Homo sapiens: one gene and its partner. The protein of the gene in region 1 interacts with the protein of each later gene in a biochemical or structural test. Each region holds a gene or a part of one and is shown on either strand. Other genes may lie near its edges.

What was found.
Region 2: the proteins of PLCG2 (region 1) and SH2D1B interact in a biophysical measurement, tested with the Homo sapiens proteins (one study listed by IntAct).

Annotation. Positions count from the first base shown.
Region 1 is NC_000016.10:81,908,121-81,911,942, forward strand, and holds part of PLCG2 (1-phosphatidylinositol 4,5-bisphosphate phosphodiesterase gamma-2), read left to right. Parts: intron 1-295; coding exon 296-471; intron 472-2,399; coding exon 2,400-2,600; intron 2,601-3,822. UniProt on the Homo sapiens protein: The production of the second messenger molecules diacylglycerol (DAG) and inositol 1,4,5-trisphosphate (IP3) is mediated by activated phosphatidylinositol-specific phospholipase C enzymes. It is a crucial enzyme in transmembrane signaling.
Region 2 is NC_000001.11:162,401,943-162,405,764, forward strand, and holds part of SH2D1B (SH2 domain-containing protein 1B), read right to left. Parts: intron 861-3,822; coding exon 797-860; intron 1-796. UniProt on the Homo sapiens protein: Cytoplasmic adapter regulating receptors of the signaling lymphocytic activation molecule (SLAM) family such as CD84, SLAMF1, LY9 and CD244. In SLAM signaling seems to cooperate with SH2D1A/SAP.

The DNA of each region.
Region 1 (3,822 bases):
GCCTCATGGCTCTCAGACTTCCCATAGAACAGAATGGAGGGCTTTGCTGGGAACCGTTCACTGCATGTCTCAGGATGCCAGGAGGCCACCATAAATGAGGGCTCTCAGGAGTGGGAGGCAGGCAGAGGAGGGTAGCAGGTGCTGTTTTCCCATACCCCTTCGGGTGGGGACCAGCTGAGGCTGGCCTCTCTATGTTATCTGGTACCCTGGGTCAGGGTGAGACAGAAGGACCTGTCTAGTGATGCTGGGGTTTGGTCCAAGGCTTTCAGAAACCCCTCCTCTCTTTGCGGCCCAGGATATACCCCCTACAGAACTACATTTTGGGGAGAAATGGTTCCACAAGAAGGTGGAGAAGAGGACGAGTGCCGAGAAGTTGCTGCAGGAATACTGCATGGAGACGGGGGGCAAGGATGGCACCTTCCTGGTTCGGGAGAGCGAGACCTTCCCCAATGACTACACCCTGTCCTTCTGGTAATGCCCCCGACCCAGGGAACGCCTACCTTCTTCTCCATGCCAACCGATGAGGCAGGGTGGCGAGTGGTTCTAGCTCAGGCAGGAATTGGGCAGGCTGGGACCTGAATCCCAGGCTTCATTTGTCTAGCTCTTCTAGGCCGGGACAAGGGTGAGGTGGGTATGACTCACTTCGGCACTGTAACCCAGATTAATGAGATTTCAGGGCAATCTTTTAAAAAATCAAAAGTAATGCAAAAAAGTCTGTGATGAACAAAATATGAACATTTTAAACAAAGACAAGATCTGACCCTACTCTTAGATGATGTGGTCTCACTCACTTTCCCCGATCCCAGCCCTGGAGTGGGTCATGTGGCTCTGGATGATTCAGCCAACCTTCTAGCATCTCTGTCTCCTCCATAAAACGAGGACTCTAGGGCTGTCCTTTTGAAGCCGTCATAGGCTGTGATGAGCTTGTGCATTCATTCATCCACCCACTTATCCATGTCTCAGTGCATTAAAAGATACTTCTTGAGGGCGTGCCCTGTGCTAGACACAGTACTTATGCCAGACAGACAATGTCTTTGTCCTCCTGGACACTAGCGTCTTTTGAAGGAGATGGGCAATGAAAAAGCAGTCACTCAAATGATTTGCAAGTATAGTTGTGATGAGTGCAATGAAACAAGGCAACATAAAGGGACATCCCTCCCTTTATTGGGGGGGTTTAATGTGAGTTGGGGGGATTTGTGAAAGTCTGTGAGGAAGGCTCTGATGCCCTGACGTGGGGAATGGTTAGGAAAACCTTCCTGAAAGAAGATGAGACCTGAAAGAGGGAAATTATAATTCTGTCACTTAAAAAAAAATTGTGATAGGGTCTTGCTCTGTTGCCTAGGCTGTAGTACAATGGAGCAGTCTCAGTCACTGCAGCCTCAAACTCCTGGGCTCAAGCAACCCTCCTATCTCAGCCATTTAAGTAGCTGGGACTACAGGCACATGCCACGACACCTGAATAACTTTTAAATTTTTTGTAGAGCTGGAGTCTCACTACGTTGCCCAGGCTGGTTTTGAACTCAGCTCAAGCAATCCTCTGGCTTCGGCCTCCTGAAGTGCTAGGATTACAGCTGTAAGCCATTGCACCTGGCTGAAAATTAGAATACTAATAACACGCAAATAATCCTGGACACCTAAATGATGCTTACCATGTGCTGGGCAGTATTCGAGACACCTTGTGTGTGTGGTCTCGTTTACTCTTCAGGATGCCTCTTTGAGGTGGATACTGTTATCATTCCTGTCAGACCGCTGGGGTAGTAATACAGTGTGGCTCAGACAGCACGGGTGACCTGCTCCAGGACACTTGGTTCATATGTGGCAGAGCTGGGATTTGAATCCAGGCATCCTGGCTCTAGAGAAGCAGTTATATATATAAAAGGGGGATGGGGTGGGGTGGGGTGGGGGAAGTAGGTAGAATGTTCTGGAATCCAGGCTGAGGGTCTAGCCTATACTAAGGCCCTGCATCTGGTTTTGTTGTTGTTGTTGTTGAGATGGAGTCTCGCTCTGTCGCCCAGGCTGGAGTGCAGTGGCGTGATCTCGGCTCACTGCAACCTTCGTCTCCCAGGTACAAGTGATTCTCTTGCCTCAGCCTCCCAAGTAGCTGGGATTACAGGCATGCACCACCATGCCCAGCTAATTTTTGTATTTTTAGTAGAGACGAGATTTCACTGTATTGGCCAGGCTGGTCTGGAACTCCTAATCTCAGGTGATCCACCCGTCTCGGCCTCCCAAAGTGCTGGGATTACAGGCATGAGCCACTGCGCCCAGCCTCCTGTGTCTGTTCTAGGAGCAGAGGGAAGGTTGTGTGGCCACATGTAATGTCCCCGCCTCTGAGGCCCTGGCTGCCGCAATGGCCTGGCCTGCGTTCTCCCAGCACTGATGGCGTCCTCTCCCCGCAGGCGGTCAGGCCGGGTCCAGCACTGCCGGATCCGCTCCACCATGGAGGGCGGGACCCTGAAATACTACTTGACTGACAACCTCACCTTCAGCAGCATCTATGCCCTCATCCAGCACTACCGCGAGACGCACCTGCGCTGCGCCGAGTTCGAGCTGCGGCTCACGGACCCTGTGCCCAACCCCAACCCCCACGAGTCCAAGCCGTACGTGTCTGAGGGTGGAGCAGGAGGCAGGCGGTGGTCGGGTTAGCTCCACCAGGCAGAGAAGCTGGCCTGGTGGTTCAGCCGGGCCAGTCCCCCAGGACACCCTCTCCCCAGCCCACCGGCATCTCAAAATTGCCGAGGTGGCCAGTTTCCAAATTCCTGGCACCATGACCTGTGTCCTTTTCTCTTTTCTTTCTTTCCTCCCCTTTTCTCTTTTCCCTTTCTTCTACTTTGTCTTCATAGCCCCGAGACTTTGGGCTTTGATTTTCAGAGGGTCATTTTGGCCTGGGGATATTCTCTTACCTTTCAGAGCTCCTTCCTGTTTGTTCTGAAAATGAACAAGGAAACAATGATTATAAGAGTCTCCCGCTGATTTTTTTTATCTAGTGAAATGAGTATCAAGGTAGGTCTTGCGAAGGGTCAACAAATTCTGGGAATAAAGAAAAAACAATTTTTAGGCAGAAAGCTGCAAAAATGTCCATTTCCGAGGAGGCCGTATTACTTATAGCAACTTTTTTTTTCACTTTTTCTGTCACATTTTCCTATGGATTGCCTCTTAAAACTTGCTATTTCTTATCTTAAGAAATAACCCGAAAACAACCCAAAACCTTGTGAAACTCCTGCTGTGATCTCCGTCTTCGATTTTCTGAGACACGTGGCAATAACTGTGCCTCCCTGGGAGCCTGGCTTTTCAGGTTTGGGCTGCTTGGGTGGATGAAGATGAATCAATTTTTTGAGACAAGGTGTTGCTCTGTTGCCCAGGCTGGAGTGCAGTGGAACAATCACGTCTCGCAGCAGCCTCGAGCTCCTGGGCTCAAGTGATCCTCCCACCTCAGCCTCCTATCTGGGACTGCAGGTGTGTGCCACTGTGCCCAGCTAATTAATTAATTAATTAATTAATTAATTTTGAGACCGGGTCTCGCTCTGTCTCCCAGGCTGGAGTGCAATGGCACGATCTCAGCTCACTGCAACCTCTGCCTCCCAGGTTCAAGAGATTCTTGTGCCTCAGCCTCCTGAGTAGCTGGTATTATAGGCGCACGCCACTGGGCCTGGCTAATTTTTGTATTTCCTTTTTTTTTTTTTTTTTTTTTTTTTGGGACAGAGTCACATTCTGTTGCCTAGGCTAGAGTGCAGTGGCATGATCTCGGCTCACTGCAACCTTTGCCTCCTGGGTTCAAGTGATTCTCCTGCCTCAGCCTCCTGAGTAGCTGGGACTACAGGC
Region 2 (3,822 bases), on another chromosome or scaffold:
AAGAAGCAAAATGTTTTTCTGCTTAGCTCTCAGTAAACCAGAAAAATTAAACAAACCCTAAGACTTTCAGCTATCTGATGCTTCCCACTATATTTTCGTACAACTATTGGGCACACTTGACTCCCTAAACACTCTGACCTCTTTCCACCGTCCCTTTCTAGCTCCATCTTGCATCATTGTTGAGTCTTCTAATTCAACGGAGGTTTTGCTTGGAGTCCAGGCTGGTGTGTTTGGCCAGTGGAGGAGCCACAGTGGAATAACAGTGAGGGTTATTCAAAAGTAGAACCCAGCTGGGTGCGGTGGCTCACGCCTGTAATCCCAGCAGTCTGGGAGGCTGAGGCCGGCGGATCACAAGGTCAGGAGATCGAGACCATCCTGTCTAACACGGCGAAAACCCTTCTCTACTGAAAATACAAAAATTAGCTGGGGGTGGTGGCGCGCGCCTGTAGTCCCAGCTACTTGGGGGGGCGGGGGCTGAGGCAGGAGAATCGCTTGAACCCGGGAGGCGGAGGTTGCAGTGAGCCGAGATCGCACCACTGCACTCCAGCCTGGACGACAGAGCGAGACTCCGTCTAAAAAAAACAAAACAACAACAAAAAAAGTAGAACCCAAGCCTAGAACCTTCCTATTTCTCTTCAGGGAAAAACCAGGTTAACTCGATCTGACTCTCATCTCTGCATTGTGCTTTCCTTTTTAGAATGCTTTCGCACAGTCATGGCTCAGGTAAAAGACATGTTCCCAGGTTCTTCTCCCCCAACTTTTGTGTTGTTGTTGTTGTCGTCCTTTTTGTTCTTACCTGTATCCTGTAATACCCGTGTTTCTCTCTGAAGATTCGGTATGTGTAGACAATATTTTTAAACCTGTGGAAAAAATGACTGTGTGAATCAAAATGTTCTATGCAAATCCAGGTAACATCTATCGTTATGTTTCATATGCAATACCTTTGTTAATCTACAATCCTAAAAAAACTCTTTTTTTTTTTCTGGGACGGAATATCACTCTGTCGCCCAGGCTGGAGTGCAGTGGTGCGATCTCAGCTCACTGCAACCTCCGCCTCCCGGGTTCAAGCGATTCTCCTGCCTCAGCCTCCTGCGTAGCTGGGATTACAGGCACCCACCATCATGCCCGTTAGAATGGCTATTATCAAAAAAGACAAAGGATATAGAGAAAGGAAAACCCTTGTACAATGCTGATGGGAATGTAAATTAGTATAGCCATATGGAAAACAGTATGGAGGTTCCTCAAAAAATTAAAAATAGAATTACTGGCCGGGTGCCGTGGCTCACGCCTGTAATCCCAACACTTTGGGAGGCTGAGGAGGGCAGATCACGAGGTCAGGAGTTTCAGACCAGCCTGGCCAACATAGTGAAACCACGTCTCTACTAAAAATACAAAAATTAGCTGGGTGTGGTGGCGTATGCCTGTAATCCCAGCTACTCGAGAGGCTGAGGCACGAGAATCGCTTGAACCCAGGAGGCGGAGGTTGCAGTGAGCCAAGATCATGCCACTGCACTCCAGCCTGGGCGACAGAGCGAGACTCTGTCTGAAAAAAAAAAAAAAAAAAAAAAAATATATATATATATATATATATATATATATATGTAATTACTATATAACCTCACTACTGTGTATATATCCAATGGAAATGAATCTAGTATGTTGAAGAAATATCTGCACTCCCACTTTTATTGCAATATTAGTCACAATAGCCAAGACATGGAATCAACCTAACTTGATTAATAGATGAATGAAGAAAGTTACACACACACACACACACACACACACACACACACACACACAATGGAATATTATTCAGCCATAGAAAAATAAAATCCTGTTACTTGCAACAACATGGATAAATCTGGAGGATGTTATCCTAACTGAAATAAGCCAGGCACAGAAAGAAAAATACCACATGGTCTCACTCATACGTGGCATCTAAAAAAAGTTGATATCATAAAACTAAAGAGTAGAATGAGAGTTCTCAGGCCTTGTCAGTGAGAGGGGGAGGATTAGGGAGATATTGGTCAAAGGATACAAAATTTCAGTTAAACAAGAGATCTATTGTACAACATGATGACTATAGTTAATAACCATATATTACGTTCTTAGGCAGGGCACAGTGGCTCAGGCCTATAATCCTAGCACTTTGGGAGGCCAAGGTGGGTGGATCACCTAAGGTCAGGAATTCAAGACCAGCCTGGCCAACATGGTGAAACCCTGTCTCTACTAAAAATACAAAAATTTGCTGGGTGTGGTGGCAGGCACCTGTAATCCCAAGTACTCAGGCGGCTGAGACAGGAGAATAGCTTGAACACAGGAGGTGGAGGCTGCAGTGAGCCGAGATGGTGCCACTGCACTCCAGCCTGGGTGACAGAGTGAGACTCCATCTCAAAAAAAATAAAATAAAATAATAACCATATATTATATTTTTGAAAAATGCTGAGAGGATATTTTAAGTTTTCTCACTACAAAAATGATAACTTGATGAGGTAATGCATATGTTAATTAGCTAGATTTAGTCATTCCACAACGTATATATATTTTAAAACATCACATTGTACAAAATAAGTACATATAATTTTATCTATCAAATAAAATAAAATGAATTAGATTGTATACTTTAAATATGTACAGCTTATTTTACTTGAATTAGACTTAAGTTTTTAAAAATAAAAAAAGTAAAATCTGCTGTTGAACCTCAATAAAAAAAGAAAAGAAAATACATGGATGGCAAATAAGCACTCGTAAAGATACCCAGTATCATTAGTCATTAGTGAAACGCAGATTCAACTCACAATGAGATACCACTACACACTTATTAATACAGTTAAAATGTAAAAGACTGACCGTTCCACATGTTGGTAAGGATGTAGAGCAATCAGAACTCATGTAATGCCCATGGGAATAGTGAGATCGCATGATCACTTTGGGAAACAGTTTGGCAGTTTCTTAAAAAAGATAAGCCTACATAGAACACACAACTTAGCTGTTCCAATCCTGATTATTTACCCAGGAGAAATGAAAGCATACACCCACACAAAGACTTAGTCACAAATATTCATAGCAACTTTAGCTGTAATAGCTATAAATGAGTAAGCAATTTGGGATGCATCCCTACAATGGAGCACTATTCAGCAATGCAAAAAAATGAACTATTGCTGCATGCAACCACATAGATGGATCTCAAAATAATTATTCCGAATAAAAGAAGTCAGATAAAAATGACTACATACTCTATGATTTGATTTACATTAAATTCTGGAAAAATACACATTAATCTATAGTGCCAGAAAGCAGTTTGTGGTGGCCCAGAGTCTGGGCATAGGTGGGAGGTATGTTGATGAGAAATTACAAAGGGGTGCAAGTGAAGTTTTGGAGGTGATAAATATGTTCATTATCTTGGCTGTGTTCGTTTCATAAGTGTACATACATATGTCAAAATCCATCAAATTGTACACTTTTTATTTTATGTCAGTGATACCTCAATAAAGCAGTAAGACATATTCATGGCATAAAAAGGTAGATGAATATAATTTATCTTTCTAATATATAAACTAAATTTTAATTCCTTATACATATGTGCTTTTGCTGTTTTCATGATTGGTTTTTGGCCTCAGATAGAAAAAGTGTTTCCTATTTTTGCAGTTATGTTCTCAATAAATATGTGGTGTCTTGACTCTCTGTGTGAGACTGATACCCAGTGGAGCCTACCTTTTTGTTTATTCTATGGAAATCGTTGTCGTCATTTATGAGAAATACACTGGACTTATAAAAAACATTTAAAAATCTTAGGCATTAATTTCTCAGTTGAGGTTCAAA